Linked DNA regions of Homo sapiens: region 2 is linked to region 1. A link means that fine-mapping ties the variant in region 1 to the expression of a gene that starts in the linked region. Tissue or cell type: whole blood. Region 1 holds a variant in brackets; the other region holds the start of a gene. All regions are shown on one strand. Distances are between the middles of the regions.

Region 1 (10,917 bases):
TTCTCAGAGAACTTTACTGTATTGACTGAAGATTCTTACTAAAAGCTTTGTGTCTTACTAAAGTAATGAGTCATCTCTCAGCATTTGGGATACTTCATTCTGCAATCCTCGTTCCTCTGCCTCAGATTCAGGGTGGTGGAGGGATTAAATCCATACCTTTTTCTCAGATTCAGCCATTTTCAACTTTTGCTCCCCAAGCATCTTTTCTTCACTATCTCTTTACCATGTTTAGCCCTTCTCTGAGACTAGCAGCTTCATAATGTTCAGTGAAACAGAAATGCATTTTTTTCTTTCGTATGTATTTTTAGACCTTAAGAATCACATATTTTCTTCTCTTTCATAGGTAGGGGATTGGAACTTGGAAAAAGAGATATGCTTCCCTAACACACTCTGTGATGTACATTTGTCACTTATTTATGCTTAACATCTTAGGACATAACAATTGGCGAAACTATCTGTTGAGGATTATATTTGAGTGAAAGGGTTAATAAATGTCATAATTATTATCTAATGTTATTAACAAAAGTTATTTATTTTGCTGCTTTTCTGCCTGTGATGCTTTGTCAGTTAGGTTCTCCAAGAAGCAGGTACCAAGATAGGATGGGAGATTTATTGGAAGAAATGACTTAAAGGATAAAGGAGGAGGGAGCCTTCATATTGCAATGCTGGTCTTACACGTGCAAAAGATGAAGGCAAGGGAAACATTGGATAGGAGGAGATCCAGATCATAGTGCAGATGTGAAAAGGTCTTGGCTGGCCCAGTGGGAACATCCAAGCAAATGCTGCCCATTAGAGGAAGCTCATATGAGGCAATGATCCATTAGAGGAAGCTCATATGAGGCAATGATCCATTAGAGGAAGCTCTTTTGAGGCAATGATGGCTTTGTTCTAGTATCTCTGTTATGCATGGTCATTGCCTGGGAGCAGCCCAAGGGCAATGTGGATCATGTGAATAACGTGGTGCTTATCAATAATGTGGGCCAGTTGAAAGTTGTTTATTTGTTATGTTTCCTTGCAGCAGGTTCTCTTGAAGGAACATCTGAGTAGGTCATCTTCCATGACTGCCACTGATGTCTACTTGGTATTTTTAGCCAGTTTTATAAAAACTATTTTTATTGTAAAATTATTTTATATTAAAGCAGTTTTAACAGTCTTCTTCATATGGGGAAGAATTCCAACAGAGATGAAATAATGGACAACTTTTTGTTGTTGAATATTCCTAAAATGTTTACTAAGACTTTAAATATTATTTTAATGAGAGAACGTTAAAGAAGGGGAAAATGTTGTGTATCATTCTTTAGAATTCCAATAATCACAGTCAGCCTAAATATACCACTAGATAATTCTGTTTCTTTAGTCTCTGTCATGTTTTTTAAAGGCAAAGTACTCATCACAGACTGAAAAGTCCAAAATTGTCACTGGATATACCTGTTTCGGATCAGCCCTTTTGACCCCCATTTTTTTTTGGATCTACAACCAGCTTGTTTTCAACTTAATCACCTGATTTCAAAAGGATCGGAAAAAACCCTAGCCTGAAAATCAGTCATCTGTGGTCCAATTCTGCTTTGTTGCAATGTAGCTATGTGACCTTGCAGAAATTACTTCACCCTCTTGGGTTCAGTTTCCACATCTGTGAAATGAATGTATACTATTAGATAATCTCTAGGCTTCATGTAGTCTAAAAAACACTATAGTTGGAGTTGGAGGTTATGGATAACGTTTCTGTATTTCCTATCAAAAACTAAAATAAAGACATGGAGGCCATGTTTAGGAAATATGTGTAGAGCATATCTTTTGGAAAAGGGAATTAATATTTAAAACAATTTTCTATGCTGAAGGATAGGTTAATTTATATGAGATAAACTTTAATAAGAATATGGTGAGTGCTTTTTTTTAAGTAAACCTTTTATTTTAGAACAATGTTAGGGTCATAGTATTTTAAAATAATTTTAGATTTATAGCATTATTGCAAAGACAGTGCAGATAGTGCAAGATATTTTTGCTTTGTACTTAGGTTTAAAAATATTAATGGTAATCAGTGTAGGGTGGATGGTTTGGTGGTGGAAGGGGGCAGAGATGGGGCTAGAGGGGCAGACTATGGAGAGACTGGAATTAATGCTTTATGTGAAAAGAAATTAGGCATATTATTTGATGTGATCCTGAAATTTTGCGACTATAAAAATTTACAGTGAACATGTACACTAAATTAATAGAGACTCACAAGTTAGAATAACAGAAGCAACAATCACGTTATACTCTAAACCTGCACCTCAACTGGAGTTATATTTTTGATGCCTACTTGCTATTTTTAGCCAGTTTTATAAAAACTATTTTTATTGAAAATTTATTTTATATTAAAGTATTTTAAGTCTTTTTCATATGGGGAAAAATGCCAATACAGATGAAATAATGGACAACTTTTTGTTGTTGAATATTCCTAAAATGTCTACTAGGAATTTAAATACTATTTTAATTACAGAATGTGAAAGAAGGGAAAAATATCATGTTTTTGGTTTAGGGAACTGTGTTTTAAAAGGAACATTGAAATGTTTGTAGATCTGAACAAGAGGCACCAGAAAGATGAAAGATTTAGAAATTTTTATACAAGAGAAAACAGTGAATGTGCTGGTGTTTAGCGTAAGATAAGATTTAGCAGGGATATGCAATCAATTACTTTAAAAAATTTTTTGTTTATAATTTTTTAATTAAAAATTTTTAATTGACACACGATAATTATACATATTTATGGGGTACATAGTGACATTGCAATACACAAAATATACAGTGATCAGATTAGGGTAATTAGTATATCCATCATCTTAAGCATTTATCATTTCTTTCTGTTGAGAACATTCAATATCCTCCTTCTAGCTATTTAGAATATATATTATTGTTAACTGTAGTCATCCTACAGAGCTATAGAACACTACAACTTAATCTTCCTATCTAGCTGTAATTTTGTATCTTTTAACAAATTTCTTCCTATCCCCCATTACCTTTTAAATTAAATTTATTTTAATAATTAGGTAACCTACTCATGTAATTTAAAAACCAAAATGATATGAAAAGGTCTACAGTGCTTCTACTCCTGTCACTACTCCTCTGTTCTCCCATCTTGTTTGGTATGGATCTTTTGAATCCTTCTGAGAGTTTCTTTAGGCAATTAAAAGCAAATACACATATGCAAAAGGAATCATACTATATATGTTATTTTGTACCTTTTTAAAAACTGAACAGTATATTTTGGACATCTTTCCATATATGTGAAAGAAGGTGTCTTGGTTTGTTTTAAACAGCTGCATAGAATTTCATTCTGTGAAAGCATCATAGTTTCCTTAACCAGTCCCAAAGATGAATGCTTGAATCACTGCCCATATTCTACTTTTACAATGTTATTCATGAAAAACAAGAAAAACAAATAGCAATGCTTCTTTTTCATCTCAAATGCTTGTAGGCATATCTATAGCATAAATTCTCAGGAGTGAGACTCCTGGATCAAAACTTAACTCTGCATTTTTTAATTTTGAAAGATATTCCCTAACTGCTCTCCACAGGAGCGGTCCTAATCTGCATATCCAAGAGCAATGTATGTGAACCTACGTTTCCACAGCCTCACCCACAGAATGTGTGCTCAAACATTTGGATTTTTGCCCATCTACTAGGTGAGAAATGGTATTGATACAGTTACAATTTTCATGCGTCTCATTATGAATGAAGTAGAATATATTTTCATATGTTGCAGAGCCTTGTTTCTCCTGTGAACTTTGTTCATACTCTTTGTATAGTTTCCAGCTGGTTGGTGTAGTAGTTGTAGTTGGCACTGCCAACTACGAGTTCCTCTTGGCGGCCACCTCTACAAGCTGAAAGCTGGTGGTATGAATGCTGGTACCTCTTTGCCTGTGGGCCTTTTTCCCCCTAGACATGGTGGCATACACAATAAGTGTGTAGGAAAAGCCAGAAGTGCCACAAAGTTAATGTCTTGGAAGCATCTGTATTCCAATGTTAAGCAAGGATTTGGTGGATGAAAAGCACAGTTTCCTTTCCCCTTGATGGGAATAACTCTTAGTTATATCTGACACTGTCTTCCAGACTTTCCCAGCAAAACTGAGCTCCAGTTGCCCAGATGGGTAACCAGCTTGAAAATTCATACTTTATTCCTTCCCTGCTCTGTCTACTTTACTACTCCATTCCCAGTATCTAATAATTTGATGATTTTTAACTTCCAGTATAAACTCTTTTACAAGAAGCCTTGCCTCAGGATCGGTTTTTAGAAGTGCCAAGCCAAGCCAGGTTGTTAGGCCTACGTTTGAGCACTGTGCAAAGTGTGGTCTGCCCGTGGTGCTGGCTTGTGAGCTGTTTTTTACCAGTCTGTGATAAATTCAGAAATTGGGGTGAAAAGTTTAGAAACTTTTATGGCAATTTGATGTTGCCATCACATTTAAGGGTGTGATTTTGTGTTTTACAGACATATGCATTGATTTGTAATGAACTGGAAAAAAATGAAACAAAAATTACTGGCCCCCATCTCTGATAGTTGGTGAGGCACTGCTTTAAATGATCACACTAAGAAAAATGGGTAGAAGTACAACTAGGGAAACTTTGGTTATCTACAGAGAGAACTCCCTGATAATTTCCTGGAGTGCCTAAAACAAAAGATTTCCTGTTGGTGATGGTCAATACTCCATCATGAGAAGAGTTAAGCCTGTAGAAGGCTAGCTATAACAGACTCTATAGAAAATTCCTGCATTTGGTAGCAGATCTCTTCTGCTTTTTTATTTTCTAAAACTGACAAATAACAGTTGTACATATCCATGAGGTACATAGTCATGTTTATGTATGTACAATGTATAGTGATCAGATCAGTGTAATTAGCATATCCATCATTGCAAACATTTATCATTTCTTTGTGTTGGGAACAGTCAATGTCCTCCTGGCTATTTGAAATTATATGTTATT[T/G]TTAACTATAGTCATCCTACAGAGCTATGGAACACTAAAACTTATTTATTTTGCTGTAATGAAATGAGAACAGGAAGTCTGTCATTCTTTTTCATCTCTATCTTAGCATGAAAGAAAGGATTAGTAAAAATGAAATGAATACACTGGGTGGGCTCCTTCAAAATCTGTTGACTTTCTAAAAATCATAAGGCCAAGTTTAATTCTGGGTTTCTATTTTATCACAATCTGATACTTTTTGATATACAATACTGTGAGTTCCAGTCCAGCAGCCTTTCATTTTCACAAAACTGAGAAAAAAATCTCATTTTTACAGCTATAGGTAATGGAACTAAGCCTGGTGTGTGTGTGTGTGTGTGTGTGTAACCCTAGATTCTTCAACTAGTATTAAAGTACTAAATGAGAAGTGTTATGAAATTTCTTGCATGGGTTACTGGATCTCAAAAACAAATAAGTTCACTCAGTACACAAAGCAATAAGGTGAGAAACCAGGGAAAAAGAAAATATTTGCCTTTAAGCTCTGGAGAAGAGCTATCCTCTCCTTGACTGCCCCTTCGAGTCCTCAGGTCTGGGGATTTTACCTCCCTCCACCAGAACAAAGCTCCCTTTAGAGTTTAGGAAACCTTGTGGCCAGACTAGAGTGGGAAGATTAAAATGGCAATTGCAATGGAATTGAACTTAATGCGGGAACCACAGATCCTGTGTTTCTACAACCTTAGAGGACGAATTGAAATCAGCATAGATAAACCTGGAGTATTGAGGACTGGGCAATCAGGAATATTTAAAATGCGAATAAGCTTCTTGTCTTTAAAAATGTTTTTAAGAAGAGTTGCAGTGGTTTCGTTCACTTAGTCTATTTTGTGGATTCAAAGGGACATTTAAGAGGACAGCATGGGTGTCCCCTATTATATCGTTGTGTTAAAAGGAGATGGGCCTGGAGTCAGACTGCCTAGATCCCAGCTCTGCCTCTCATTAGTTGTGTGAACTTAGTCAAAGTACTGAGATTTCAAAGCTCAGTTTCCTCTTCTGATAAATAAGGATAAGAAGAGAACCTTAGAGAACTGTTATGAGGATTAAATAAGATAATGCATGTGAAATTGTTAGCATAGGCTTTACGCATGGCACTCTGCTGTAAGTATCATTAAAAGCCTTCCAAAATTCCCTTACAGCAGAAAGCAAGTAGTACTGGATCCTTTTGGCTTTTGCTGGGTAATGGCAAGAGCACTGTCTTGCTCTTCCACACTCCCCTTTTCTCAGTCCCTTTGCCCTCAATCCCTTCATCCTTCACCTCCCTCATATGGGTCTTATCCGAAACTTTAGGACTTTGCCTCGAGCTTGAGGAGAGGTAATGCATATGTTACCAGAAAGGGGGTCCAATACAGACCCCAAGAGAGAGTTCTTGGATCTTGCACAAGAAAGAATTTGAGGTGAATCCATAAAATGAAAGCAAGTTTATTAAGACTGTAAAGGAATAAAAGGGCTATTTCATAGGCAGAGCAGTGGCATGGGCTGCCTGGCTGAGTATAGTTATAGTTATTTCTTGATTATATGCTAAACAAGGGATGGATTATTCATGAGATGTTCAGGAAAGGGGCAGATGATTCCCAGAACTGAGGGCTCCTCCTGCTTTTAGAACATATAGGGTAACTTCTGGATGTGGCCATGGAATTTGTAAACTGTCATGGTGCTAGTGGGAGTGTATTTTAGGCTGCTAATATATTATAATTAGCATATAATGAACAGCTGAGACAGCCAAAGATCACTTTCATTGCCATCTTGGTTTTGGTAGGTTTTGGACGGCTTCTTTATTGCATCCTGTTTTATCAGCAAGGTCTTTGTGACCTGTACCTTGTGCTTACTCCTATCTCATCCTGTGACTAAGAACACCTGCTGTCCTGGGAATGCAGCCCAGTAGGTCTCAGTCTTATTTATTTATTTATTTATTTTGAGACGGAGTTTCACTCTTGTCACCCAGGCTGGAGTGCAATGGCGCGATCTTGGCTCATTGTAACCTCTGCTTCCTGGGTCCAAGCACTTCTCCTGCCTCAGCCTCCAGAGTAGCTGGGATTACAGGCATGCGCCACCATGCTGGCTAATTTTTTATATTTTTAGTAGAGATGGGGTTTCACCATGTTGGCCAGGCTGGTCTCAAACTCCTGACCTCAGGTGATCCACCTGACTTGGCCTCCCAAAGTGCTGGGATTACAGGTGTGAGTCACTGCGCCCGGCCAGTCTCAGGCTTATTTTACTCAGCCTCTATTGAAGATGGAGTCACCTGGTCCAAATGCTTCTGATACATTGAAGAGTAACTTATACTCTTTTCCCAAATTCTACTGAACAAACCTTTAGAAGAGTGAAGGATTTTTCTAGAATGTAAACCTAATTCATTATAGAAAATTGAAGTAGGACCCTGTAAGGCTATCTGTGGGCTCTCATGGGGTGTGTGTGTGTGTGTGTGTGTGTGTGTGTGTGTGTTGGAGAAGTGGTAGTGAAGATGATGGTTGTGATGATGGAGAATGAAAATTGCAACTACTGTGTGCAGTACCATGACTGCCATTACACCTTAATTTTGGAACAGAGTTCCAGAAGCTTTTATGCTCTCAGAGGTGAAATGCATAATATGCATTTATCATTATCATGGCTCTTTTGTGATCCCTGAACAATAGATGAATGAAGAGCTCCTGAATGAATTTCTAATTGAAATGGCTTTTTCAGTAGGGGCTTTCCATTTGCTTCCAGCTTCCTCCAGGTTGTCAGTCCTCTCTTTATTTGTAAGTTTTAATACTATTTTTGAAAGCAGGATAACACCCATCAGAGCTGCAGCAGTCCAGTTGTGCAAGGCATTTAATGCCCAGTCACGCAGTCTGAATCCAACCTGAAGTCTGCTTGTCAAGCCATTAGCCTTATCCCTGTGGCGTCTGCATGGAGAAGGAAAGCCTTTTTTACCTCCAAATTCTCACAAAAATCCAGCGTGGGATAGTGCAGTCCTCCCCATTTAGCCATCTGATGCTCTCCCCTCTCTGAGGGTAATACTGAAGCACACACAGCATACTGGACTGTGCCACCCCGCTGAGCTCAAGCTTACATTGCAAGAAGCTGCAGATCTGTTAATGCACTTTCAAACCCATGCACTGCCTTCTCTTTTGCTTATCCCTGAAGGGAAGTATTTTTAGTCCCAGATGCTGGAACTACTGTGATTCAAAACCTTTTAGTAACTTTATTTGGAATGCTGATGAGTTAAAACCAGAATTAAACAAAACTAGGAAATATTTTTAAAGTAACATTTAATGAATACACATTTATAAAAGCCATCATCCCTTAACATGGGGAAAGTGTACAAAAATAATGTGAAAGTGTAAAAATTTTTCTAGAATACAGGAAACATATCAGCAGTAAAGAAGTTTAGTTTAACTTTTTTTTTAAATGTAAAATAGTTTGGATCTGTTAAAAGGAATACAGTTCGCCCAAAGCACTTATTTTCATCTGTTGTAAACTCATTCTTTCTACCTTAAGTAAACTGGAGGAGTCAGCTGTGTTAATATGGTCAAATTAATTTCATAGTTTTGGGAGCAGGGAGGTTGTGGGAAGGACAGAAGGAGAACTTGGGCTTTCTTTGGTCAGCTGGTGGGGCTTGGAGCACTTGTGGTTGGGGCCAAAGGTCAGGTCTGGAAATGCAGCTATTATGCCAAAACCATCAGAGTGCTCTTTAGCTTCAGGCTTCATGAATTGCTTTTAACTACTCAGGTAGAGCATTTTTACTAGGCTATAAAAGTAGAGTTCATTTTTTTCTATAGGTCAGCATTTTACCTATGGATGGCATTTTCTATTTTCGGTGACGGACTATGAGCCAGGATAAACACATTACTCTCTTCTTTAACAAAAAGAGCATGGTTAACTCCAAAGACTTCTCTAGACCAGCCTGGATGGTACCTAAACTTTAATCAACCAATGCTCAAGTAAAAGAGCAGTATCCAGCCCCAGCACACCTAACTGTTTTGCATAACATAGGTGAGTAGTGACATTTTCCTTATCTTTTCCACTGATACTGTAGGGTCAGCACCGTATACCATGACTCTACTCAATGTCGTCCAACTTTTTGTATCCTTGCTTGGGTTTATCAAAGATAAGTTGAAGGAGCGTGTGTTCTGTGTACCTTTGCAACCAGTTATAAATAAACGCAAATTGAAATAAAAAAGACAATCTACAATGGTGCGATGAAAGCAACACCCTCATCCAATGGTAATTAAATTGATAAGGTCACTTTAGAAATGGCTTGGCAACATTATCAGTGCAAAGATATTATCTGAAATGTTATTTATTTTAGTAAAAAATGGATATAGTCTACATGTTTAATAAGGAAAGAGGTTTGAAAAATGCCTATTTGATGTGATATTATGCAGCCATTAAGAAAATATATTACGTAAGGCCAGATTCATGCCTGTAATCCCAGTGCTTTGTGAGGCGGAGGCAGGCAGATCACTTGACGCCAGCATTTCAAGACCAGCCTGACCAATGTGGTGAAACCCTGTCTCTACTAAAAGTACAAAAATTAGCTGGGCATAGTGGCACATGCCTGTAGTCCCAGCTACTCGGGAGGCTGATGAACAAGAATCACTTGAACCTGGGAGGAGGAGGTTGCAGTGAGCTGAGATCGTGCCACTGCACTCCAGCCTGAGCGACAGAGCAAGACTGTCTCAAAAAAATAAAAAAGAAAAAAATAATAAAAAGGAAAACAAAGCCTTTAGAAAAACAAAGCCTTTGAAAAAGGATGTAAAATTGAATATATAGATACAATTATTTTTAAAAAGTTTTATAGAAAAATATCCTGGATTGTTGATGTTGTTTTAATATATTTTAATCATTTTTGTATAATGTCATGTATAATATGTTATAATGAAAGTAAAAAAAAAAAAAGGTCTTAGCAGAGCAGGCAGAAAAATGCCAAACTCAGTGCCTTTTAGTTATTTTGATATGTGGGAAGATCATGCATAAGGCTCCTTTTAGCTCATTGCTTGAGCTAGGAAGGTTAATCCCCCTGAAGGTCACCTTGGAAAGGGTACTATCAGCACAGAAAAACAGTGAGAACCATCCTAAATTTCAGCAAGGATTTGAGAAAGATCCAAATTTCACATAATGATGAATCTTCACACCTCTCTGCCCTATGATTTTCCGTAATTTTCGATCATCTATGCATTGTTCAAATTTATACCTGCAGACTATTCATTTAATTTTACTCCTTACAATTATAATAGACTAAGACAGATATAGAAGCTACTTATTTACACTAGAAATTAATTTAATAGATGAAAAATATTGAGCAATATTTGGAATATAAAATTTACAAAGCATATTATAATACCTAAATAATACTTAACCTAATATAGTGCAATTTTACAATATTTATTTAGCTTGCTGTCTAAAATTCTGGTTTCTTTGAACTTTTTGATCAAGAACTTTTATCAACCCTTCTTTGCTTATTGCACAATGCAAGTGAAATCCAAGGGGATATCCCTCCATTTTTATTCAGTCTTTCCTATACCTATTCTTTATAGAGGAAGAATTACATGCCAGCTCTATAGATACGTATGTATCCAAGACATGGATACTTTTAATCAATTGTAAATTTTTCTTGTGTTATAAAAATAGTTCCTCTCAGTAAATATCTGTATTAAGAAAAGCAAAGTCAAGGGGTCATTTCACTAGAATTCATCATGGTAATATTTATGTTTGCCTTTACTTCCAAAAAACAACAAAAACCTCATTCCCTTTTTACATTTCATGTGACCCACTTCCTCAGATATACCTAATAAAGCCTTTATCAGTGGTCACCATTGTGCTGTTTTTCCTTTCACTTAACTCAGCCCTTGAGCCAGAGAAGGAAGCTGCAATACTTCTATTGGATTTTGCAAGACATTAGGTCATGCATGTTGCCCATAACAAGGAAACTCTTTAGTGTGAAACCAC
Region 2 (10,917 bases), 34 kb after region 1:
TTATAATAATTTCAACTATTCACTTTATATGTGCTATACAGTTCAAAGCAACCTCATGCCTCTCCCTGAATGGTAGGAAGTTAAAATGTGGACTTTGCCACTGCACTTTGACCCTGTTAACTAATATTGTGCAGGCAGCATCCATACTCATTATGTACTATGTCCATAAGGTAAGTATCTTCCAAAAATAAAAATCAGTGTTATTAGCAATGCCTTGCTTTCAACAGAGATTTATTGAATAGCCACACTAAGAGGGATAAAGTGAGAAACGAGATGGACCCTGTCCTCAAGGAGCTTTGGTCTTGGGAAAGATGAAGCATATAATCAAATTGTTGCAATGCATAGTGTAATGGCCAGAGCAGACGAATGTGTAGAGAGGATGGGCGCCTACAGGCTAGGAGGGACTTGAATCTGCCAGGAAGCGGAACAAGTAAGTTTTCCAAAGTCTGTGCAAAAGTTTTGCAGCCACAATTTAACTTGAGCTCAAAACTGTTTTCACACCCTGTAAAAAGAGCAGGTATAGATGAAAGATGAACAATCAGCGATGACCATTAATTATCCCTTCCTATTTCTACGCTCCACAGTGCTGGTGCCATCAGCTCTCTGAGCCCTGGCTCTGTTCTTAATGCATTTTTTTTTCCTTAATATTGGGTGCTGGCCAGGTGCGGTCACTCACGCCTGTAATCCCAGCACTTCGGGAGGCCAAGACAGGCAGATCACTTGAGGTCAGGAGTTGAAGACCAGCCTGGCAAAAATGGCGAAACCCCATCTCTACTAAAAATGCAAAAATTAGGTAGGCTTGGTGGTGCATGCCTTTAATTCTAGCTACTCAGGAGGCTGAGGCAGGAGAATTGCTTGAGCCCAGGAGATGGAGGTTGCAGTGAGCTGACATCGCGCTACTGTACTCCAGCCTGAGTGAAGGAGTGAGACTGTCTCAAAAAAAAAAAAAAAAAAAAAAAATTGGGTGCTGAGGCCAAACTGACTAGCTTGTATTCTACTAATAATCTTCCAAGAGCTGTGCTATATAGTTTTATTTTCTTTTAGCCTTCTTTTTATTTAGAATTATAGTTCCTAACTTTTCAAAATTACTCTTTGCAAACATTTTCCTTCCTTTTAAGATGAAAAGGGAACTTTATCCTGATGTTAGGATTGATCATATAATCTGCATTAAAAAAAAAAAAAAAAAAAAAAAAACTCCAACCGGGCGCGGTGGCTCACACCTGTAGTCCTAGCACTTTGGTAGGCCAAGGCGGATGGATCACCTGAGGACCGGAGTTCCAGACAAGCCTGGCCAACACGGCGAAACCCCTTCTCTACTAAACATAAAAAAATTAGCTGGGCATTGTGGTGGGCACTTATAATCCCAGCTACTCAGGAGGCTGAGGCAGGAGAACTGCTTGAACCCAAGGAGCAGAGGTTGCAGTGAGGCAAGATCCTGCCACTGCACTCCAGCCTGGGTGACAGAGCGAGACTCAGTCTCAAAAAAAAAAAAAAAAAGTCCTCCCAAAATAGCTTTTCAGAAATATGTGACTGCCAAAGTACAGTACAGTAAACCTCTCCACACATGGCTGAATAAACTCTTACAGAACATTGTGGAGAAGAATTTAGATTGGGATGTCAATGTCCTGCCTAGTTAATTAGAGTGTATATACTTCCTTTAGTAGAATAGTGTGTTCTTTTGCAATGATATGTTTCTGAAAGAGGATCTTTAAACAGCACAAGGATTCATTGTTTTCTATTCCTTAATGATTTGGGAAGAACAAATTGTTAATCTATGTAGGCCAAGAATGTTTTCTTAGCATGCCTTGTTTTATGCATTAATTATTCTTTAGTTATTTATTTAGTTTGATTCCTTCCAGGACTGATTTCTTCTTAACAAAAGGACAAATACTAATTCAAATCACTTTGGAAATGACCTAAAAGTCATCAGAAATATCTTGAGTGGAGTTAACACAGTATATAGAACTGTTCAGGAAGTTTTCCTAATTAGTAAACCAGTCTCTTTTCATGTCCTTTGTAGGGACATGGATGAAATTGGAAATCATCATTCTCAGTAAACTATCGCAAGAACAAAAAACCAAACACCGCATATTCTCACTCATAGGTGGGAACTGAACAATGAGAACACGTGGACTCAGGAAGGGGAACATCACACTCTGGGGACTGTTGTGGGATGGGGGGAGTGGGGAGGGATAGCATTGGGAGATATACCTAATGCTAGATGACGAGTTAGTGGGTGCAGCGCACCAGCATGGCACATGTATACATATGTAACTAACCTGCACATTGTGCACATGTACCCTAAAACTTAAAGTATAATAATAAAAAAAAATCTGTGAAGAACAGAGACAGGTAACTTCAGAGATCTTATCTCTGTAAACCTTACATTATTATTATCTGGCATAAACTTACAACAAAAAAACAAACAAACAAACAAAATCCCACCCAGAAAACTTCACTATCCCCATCCTACTCTGCATTGTTATAGTAAGAATTATTGGTAGATGTAGCTGCAGGCACTAGCAAATTACCTTCTCAGAGGACAACCCAGAAAAAACTAGCTACAAAGTGCCCTAGCAAAGTGCCCAATCTTCAGGTTTTGAAGGACTACTGTGTTGCTGCTGTTGTGTGTGTGTGTGTGTGTGTGTGTGTTTGCTAGCAACTTATCAGATTTCCTAAGATTTTCCAAAAAAAAAATGATTTTTAAGTAGCATTTGATAAACACGTCTAAATTAATTATGAAGAGAACTAGGTGGTAAGGATCCTAAAACAGTGGAATGTGTTCCTGAGAGTGACAACAGAATCAGCTACCCAGCCTTTAAAAGGAGAATTTATATCCTTTTAATAACAGTATTAATAATAGTAGGGTGATTCAGGGGAAGTCCTTCAAGAGACAAAGTAATGCAGAGTGACCACTCCAAGTTTCTTTGAATATAAAATTCCATAACAAATGACCTTATTTTTCTTAAAATTGTTCACACATAGTGCAAGGCCTGGGGTTTTTAATTTATTAACAATCTTAAAAAGTCTGTTTAGTTCCTTCTAAACAACAGTTAGCGAGCTTTAGTAAGGCAGAAGTCTGGAAATTGTTCTTCAGCTAGGGGCCAGGCCTTGTACACCTGGTTTCTGAACAATGTGAACTTCAACAATGTGAACAACGTGAACCTCAGTGGAACTGTAAACGTTACCAAATAGAAAAACTGCTATGACCCAATTTCTCTGTACACATGTACCATTTACTTTACAGCCTTGGAGCCTGATAAATAGGAAGTGTCTCATCCTGTTTTCTGGGTTGGCAGTGTTTGCCATGCAGGTAGAATACATGCAGGTCAAATCTCATATTGTGCTAAATCACAGCATTCTGAAAAACTTGGGACCTTGCAAAAGGCCATATCTCAGAAAAGTTACTGCTTCAAATAAATGTGCCATTTTACAAAATTATACCTACTGTATCAGAAAAAAAAAATGTTCTCTCATGTGAGTGACATTTATATGACTGCCATTTGTAGGGAATAGGACATTCTCACATAGCAAGGCTGAAGAATGGTTTTGAAAGCTGAGAGTATTCTCTGAATGATAAATGTGGCAGAACTTTAAGATGCTCCTGTGGGAAGAGACTCTTCCCCCGACAACTGGAGAGTTTCCTTATAAAAATGGAACATGCATTATTATGAAAAAAGTAACCACTGAATTATAGTTGTAGCATTAAGGAGATTTTCTATGTATTTCAAACTTGCAGGCATCTTTAGTCACGGCTTTTCACCTTGTTAGAGTTGAACTTTCTGGATCATCTGGCCCAGTAGCCAGCCTTTTATTTTACATCTGTGGAAACTGAGGCTGAGATAATGAGGTTCTAGTTATTATAGAACTAGGAATAGTATTCTTCCTCCCCTCCCCCATTCTCTATCCAATTCACTTTCTCAGCTCACTGCAACCTCCACCTCCCAGGTTCAAGTGATTTTCCTGTCTCAGCCTCCTGTGTAGCTGGGATTACAGGCACCTGCCACCACGCCTGGCTAATTTTTGTATTTTTAGTAGAGACTGGGTTGCACTATGTTGGCCAGGCTGGTCTCGAACTCCTGACCTCAAGTGATCCATCGGCCTTGGCCTCCCAAAGTGTTGGGATAACAGGCTTGAGCCACCGTACCCAGCCTCAGTACACCAATCTTTTAAAGAAAGTTCCTAAATTACCATCTAGAGGTGGGAAAAAGAATAATAAAATTCTGTCTCTGGACAAACAAACGGAACTGAGGCTTTATTTACTCTTCACAATAAATTATATTCTGAACAATCTTCCTCCAGAAAAATAACCTTTAAATTGCAAGAGGAAATTTAAATCAAGATAAAAAAATGGAAGTGGTTGCAGGTATCAGGACAAATTTTTAGTGCCTGGTCAAGAAGCAGCCTCGGATCTGAGACCTTGGAGACTGACTGCTAAAGCCACATTCTTCCAGCCTACTTTTTGATGGGCGCCCCAAGAGTGCGCCAATCCAGAAGTAAGATGCAGAGAAGAATCTAACCCCTTAATTTTCCCCCTTTGGGCTTGTCTGCACCCTGGGGTAGGGATGAGCCTTAAACTCCAGGAAGTTAGAAGCTTGCTGAATCGCGGAGCAGCCTCAGGTGACTTTCCTCTAAAGTGATGCCGGGGCGCGGCGGGGAGTTTGCAAGCACCTGTTCTTCAGTGCGATGGGCTGGGGAGTGGGGTCCTAGCAGCAGGGACTGGAGGTGAGCTGAAGCAGATAAGGGACGGGAGCCTTGTGGCGAAAAGTGACCCACCTGAGGGAGAGGCGCTTCCAAGGAGGAAGCGTCCAGCGCCAACGGTGCGCGCCGCGGGCCGGGCGGGTAGAGGGAAGTTTCGCCGCGCCTGCAGCTCAGCGCTGTGGCTTGTGGCTCTCGCTGCTATAAGAAGCCAGAGAAGGGCGGGACGGTCTGCTGGATTTCGCAAGAGAAGCGGAAAAGAACTTGTTTCCTGGAAGAGTTCAAGCTGAGAATCCCAGCAGCTGGAAGGACCGGAACTTCTATACTGCGGTGCTGCTGATGGTGCCGCTGACCCCCGGGAAGCGGGGATTTTAAGGGTTACACCCGAGCCCTTGGCATCTGTGCATCCCAGGGTGATTGAGGTTTGGAGAGGTCTAGGAATCCCCCTTTCCTAAAGGAGCAAGAAGGATCTCTTTGAGTAGCTGAGAAAACAGCACCTGGACTAGGCTTCTAGGCAATTCTTTTGCCATCTTGTCTCAGTTTATAGAAAAGGTGGTATCTTTCCCCTCCGCCTGGAAGCCATGGGTTCTTATGGGGCTCATAACTTGGAAGATCTTGAGTTTTCAGGTCTTAATTTAGGTAGATTAAAGAAATAAAACAAATGAAAGAGGGATCGGGATACCTTATGATATACATGCAAATGTGTCTTTCTACAGAGAAGGTCAAAAACCACAGCCCTGGTTGTTTAAGATTGAAATAATCCTGATAAACTATGGGGCAAAGCATCCATACACTCCCAAACTCTGTAATCTAAATCCCAGAGTCTTCCCAATGATCTCCACTCAGCCATGGGTCTTAAATTCCACAGCATACGCTTGCCAAGCTCCAGAGGCCCGGCCACATGGGAGGCCTGTTCCTCCCATGGAAAGGGGTTGTTGAGTCAACCTTCCCTTTGTCTGGATTGCAACTCTCCTCATAGCTTCTTGTGGGGTTGGTCAGACCCCATGTCTTTCAAGAGGTCTTTTCTTAGCCATTAGTTGCAATTAATATTTTCTTTCTCTATACAGTAGTTTATACTTTTAGCACAGCAATTAAGACAATTTGCCTTTCAAAAGAGTTATTATCATGTGTGTGTGTCTTGTCCTGGACTGCAGTCTTCGAGGGATGACACCCTAGTTTTTTCAGTCTGGAATTTTCCATAACACCTAGCAAAATGCATTACTTAACAATGGGGATTTATTCTGAGGAATGCCTCATTAAGCAATTTATTAAATATATTCTGAGGAATGTCTCATCAAGCAATTTCGTCATTGTGTGAACATCATAGAGTGCACTTACACAAACCTAGATGGTATCACCTACTACAGGCCTAGGCTAGATGGTATATAGCCGATTGCTCCTAGTCTACAAACCTGTTCAGTATGCTACTTTTCTGAATACTGTAGTCAGTTGTAACACAATGGTAAGTATTTGTGTATCTAAGCATAGAAAAGGTATAGTAAAAATGTGGTATAAAAGATAAAAAATGGTATACCTGTATGGAACACTTACCATGAATGGAGCTTACAGGACTGGAAGTTGCTCTGGGTGAGTAAGTGAGAGAGTGTGAAGGCCTAGGATATTACTATACACTACTGTAGACTTTATAAACACTACATTTAGGCTATGCTATTATAAGAAATATTTTTCTTCCTTCAATAGTAAATTACCCTTAGCTTTCTGTAACATTTTTACTTTTTAAACTTCTAAGTTTTAAAAAACTTTTTGAGTTTTGTAATAACGCAGCTTAAAACACATATTGTACAGTGTGTACAAATAGTTTTTGTCTTTATATCCTTATTCGATAAGCTTTTGTCCCGTTTTTAAAAGTTTTAATTTTTTTGCTAAAAATGAAGACACAAACACACATATTAGCATAGACCTACACAGAATCAAGATATGTGATATCACTGTCTTCCACCTGTATGTCTTTTGTTACTGAAAGGTCCTCAGGGGCAGTAACATGCATGGAGCTGTCTTCTGTGGTAGCAATGCCTTTTTCTGGAATATCTGCTGAAAGACCTTCCTGAGGCTGTTTTACAGTTAACTTTTTAAAAAATACAAGTAGAAGGAGTACACTCAAAAATAATTTAAAAGGTACATATAATAAATACATAAGCCAGTAACATAGCTATTTATTATCATTATCAAGTATTATATACTGTACATAATTGTACATGCTATACTTCTATATGACTGGCAGCATAGTAGGTTTCTTTACACCAGCATCACCACAAATGTGAGTAATGTATTGCTCTGTGATGTTATGACAGCTACAGTGTCCCTAGGCAAGAGGAATTTTTCAGCTCCATTATAATTTTATGAGACCGTTATTATATATGCAGTGCATCATTGACCGAAACATTGTTAGGTGGTGCGTGAGTGTAATTGGTACTGAATATTTATTGCACTCATTAATTAATAAATCTACTGCCAATTATTATATTTTGCAAAAAATTCATCCGATAGTATTCTTTGGCCAGGGAAGAACTTAAAATATTCATTGATTTTATAGCATCTGATTTTCCCAGTTTGCAGACTAATAGGCAAGAGAGGGGTGTGCACCCATGGAAGAAGGTCCGCTGCGTGTCCCTAAGAGTCTTCATAGATGGTCAACACAGTTTTGGAGACTTGCCCTTTGTCTACCATTTGGTTTTAAGCCTTGATGGGCACAGAAACTTGATAAGCACACTGAGCCTGAAACAACCAAAATGGTGACTTGTTAGTTGTTAATGGAATATAAAGCAAATAGTTATTGTAAAAATACAGTTGCTAAGGGCACCAGACATTATGGCCATCACATTCTCTCCATGTAGACATATCCTGTGGAAGCTATTTTATATGCAGAAGGCTGCTGGATAAACAGACGAGTGAGTTATAAAATTCCAAGGTTTACTGACATCTGGTTAAGAGAGTAGCTATATCGATGCATGCCATTTAGAAGCAGAAGCTGGGGTCTATGGACCAGGTCACTCTGGTTTCTAGGTGGTGTTTGGATCCATTATGAGTTGACATAATGGACAACCATATTCTCGAATGCATCCTCTGAGTAATAACAGAATCATTGCTTTATAAACTTATTATTATTAGGTAGATAAAAAATTTTGAAATGTGATTTTTATGAGAGGCAGATATATTTCAGTTATGCAAGTTCTTTTCTTTGCCAAAGGCAACTGGAGTCCTAGAAAAGGAAGATTAAATTACTGGGATATGAAGGATGGAAAAAAAATGCCTTTATTAGTGCAAAACTTAAGAGGCATTTGACGTATTTATCTTGTGGTTTAAAGATTGATTTTCCCCTTGGGCCTAGGAGGGACACACAGTTCATAACTCTCCTAGTCTTTCCGTAAACCCTTGCCATAGGGGAAAATTAAGCTTCCCAAAGATGCCAGCAACCTGAGTACCCAAGGACTTCCTGTGGGCAGGATTCATCTTTCTTCCTGTAGTTTTATACTCAGAGCTCCAGATAAACCTTCCCAGATGTTGTGCACCACCAAATTGTTCTTATTTAGGGATTTCCACATTTACTGTGCCCCTGAGTCTTTCCTGCTACTTCCTCTCTCCTCATCCTACTATGTCAAAGGCCCCAAATGGTAGAATTTAGGCAAACTGATGAAGTAGGCCTAGAGCCAGTGTTCATTAAATGTTATTAAGTGATTGAAAAAAAGTTACCCTTAACATTTTGTATCTCCCTTTCAATGCCATTTTTCTCCTTTTCTGGGGCTCCCCTCTGCACTATCTTGTGTCTTGGGCATTTATCCCTCTTCCGCAAGTCCTCTCCTTACAGTGTTCCACACCTTCTTATTGGGGTGGGGTGGAGCTTTCAACACGTGCTGGACCAGGAGGTGACTGACTTGATAGTCTATAATTAGCATGTGTATGCGAATCTTTTATTGACTTAAAGATTTGCCCTCTAGCTGTTTTTGAAAAAAAAATTTTTTTTGAAGGACTCCTAGAGATGTCTCTGTCTAACCCCCAGAAATGAATCTCTATGGCAGGGATTTCAGGCGCTCTGGGAGATATATTTGAATATTGGTGTAAGGAATATTTTGTCTTTTGCTTACCTAGCATCCAGGACCAGGACTAAGTGAGGTGAATGAGGAGGCTAGGACACCAAATCTGTGGAGGTGCTCACTCAAAACCCAGTCTGCACGAACCTGAAAATAAATGACTTCTTAAATGTTTTTCCTTTGGTGCCTTCCTTGCCTGCTCTAGTCCTGGTCCTGCAGCATCCATTTCTCTTTGCTAATTATATCTTCATTTTCGTTTGATAAACGCCCTTGCACAATCTTGATCCACGTGGTTCAAGTTGAACCAATGGCACTGGGGTTCCAGGATCAGGCACCTGACTTAGACCTGGCCATTCAAAGCACAAAGCCTTGTCCACAGTGATTGGTCCAATGATGGCATGTGACCTGAGTTGGGCCAATAGGAATCTTTCCTGGAACAACCTGGGAAGCAGCACACTCTTTACAGAGGGTTGTCGGACTGCTAAAAAGCAAGCCTGGGTCACTGTGAGGAGAAAGTCAGCCTGAGAAAGAGGCCACTTCAGGGGAAAAGAGAGCAAAGAGATGAGAAGAGACAGATTTCTGCAATTGTTAGAGTGCCATATCTGAAGAAAGCTGTATACTCTGGGCTTTTTAGTGACATGAGTCAGTAATTGAATGTCTGTTATTTGTATAAAATGGGATTGGGTAGGATGAGAAAGGCACCTGCTCAGTCAGACTTCTGTGACTGTAATGCCTACTGAGGTGGCTTCATCACAACATGTGGTCAGAATGAGGAAGGCATGTGTTGTTAAAAAAAGCAAAACAAAGGCCTTTCTGAGTTTTCTTGTAGTAGCTTTGGGACTTGGATAAATAATCAATTTCTGTGACTGAAGTTTTTCAGCTACTTCCTGGTATATTCAGAAATCATTTTCCTGTCTCAGAAAACTTTTTTTCTACTTCTTTCCTATTTTAGTGGGGGTGGACAGATAGAATCCTTCTCCTCCTTTTTCCTGAAACTGCAAAGGGTATAGTGAAGAAGCCAGGCCATTGACCTGGTTTTAACCAATTTCTAGGACTCCTGCCAACACAGACCAGGAAGCAAAACCAAACAACATTTTACTGCCCACCTGCACCCAAAAAAAGTACTGATGGGAAAATACGTCAGACACTGACAGTATTGGAGTCTGGACTAGGGATAATGTCAGGAATGACAATAAAGAACTTAAAAATAAGACCTAAAGAACTTGACTTTAGGTTCAAGAGGAGGTTGAAGAGAAGAGTTGAGTATGTGGGATAAGTGAATAATAATATTTTAAAACATCACTGACAAAGCCTAGAAGTGACAGACAGTTGCAGCTACTTCTGGGAATTGAAAATAGGCAAGGAAACCCTTTCCTCTTTATCTGGGTCTCTGATTCCCTGGGTCACAAGGTCTGTGTTAATTTTGGAAGCTTCTAAGGCACTGGCAGGGCTATGGACTGACTATCACCAATAGGAATCTGGAGGCGGCCCAAGACCACATCTGCTGACCTCAGAAGAGGTCACTTAAATACGATGTTACCAAAGAACAAGATGTGCAAAATAATTTGAAGAGATGGAGAAATATTTGAGTTAATTTTTTGATAAATGCAGCTGGCATTAATAGAGATGTTCTTTCTGTAATTCAAAAACTGAAGATGTGTCATCTGCTTTCACCCCAGCCTGCTGGTACACGCCATGATATATGAAGCTGCTAGCAGAGCTATGAATCAATAGTTGATTGGTAGTTACTGTTAGTACTGGAAGTATTATTGGCAACAGCAATTCCAGTCCAGGCAATTTGTGCCTAGTGCCAGTAAAGGAAGGTTAGTTAGATTTTTCACATGCTAAAGAGGAGACAAAAATAAATTTAAAAATATTAGAGTGAATGAGGTCCTGTTCACTTTCAAATAGAGTTAGCAGGGAAAATAGTATAAAACCAATCACAGGAGGAAAAGCAAAAGAGAAGAATACTGAAAATATGAGGCTATTTTTTTTTCTCCATTTTCTAACTGTAAAGATCAATTACTTGCTAAAAGTTATTTTCTTTTTTGGGGTTTCTTTAAAGATAATTATATATATTATTTTTATACTGGTAGTATTAACTATAGATGATTCTGTAGTACCAAATACAGATGATTTATGTTCACAGAGTGTTTGCTAAACAATTTAT

Evidence for each region. PIP is the estimated chance that this variant, and not a neighbour inherited with it, causes the effect.
Region 2: it holds the start of STEAP4, and the variant in region 1 is fine-mapped to the expression of STEAP4 in whole blood (TOPMed, PIP 0.95).

What each region holds. Positions count from the first base shown.
Region 1 is chr7:88,268,209-88,279,125 of GRCh38, forward strand. STEAP4 (STEAP4 metalloreductase) reads right to left here. Exons shown (of 5, transcript NM_024636.4): 5 at 2,684-10,917. Among named protein-coding and RNA genes, the nearest start is that of STEAP4, 33 kb to the right of the region's middle. The variant T/G (reference allele first, on the strand shown) is at 4,957.
Region 2 is chr7:88,302,016-88,312,932 of GRCh38, forward strand. It overlaps STEAP4 (STEAP4 metalloreductase), which reads right to left and starts at 4,879. Exons shown (of 5, transcript NM_024636.4): 1 at 4,777-4,879. The region is part of intron 1 of LOC124901692 (a long non-coding RNA gene); the gene reads left to right.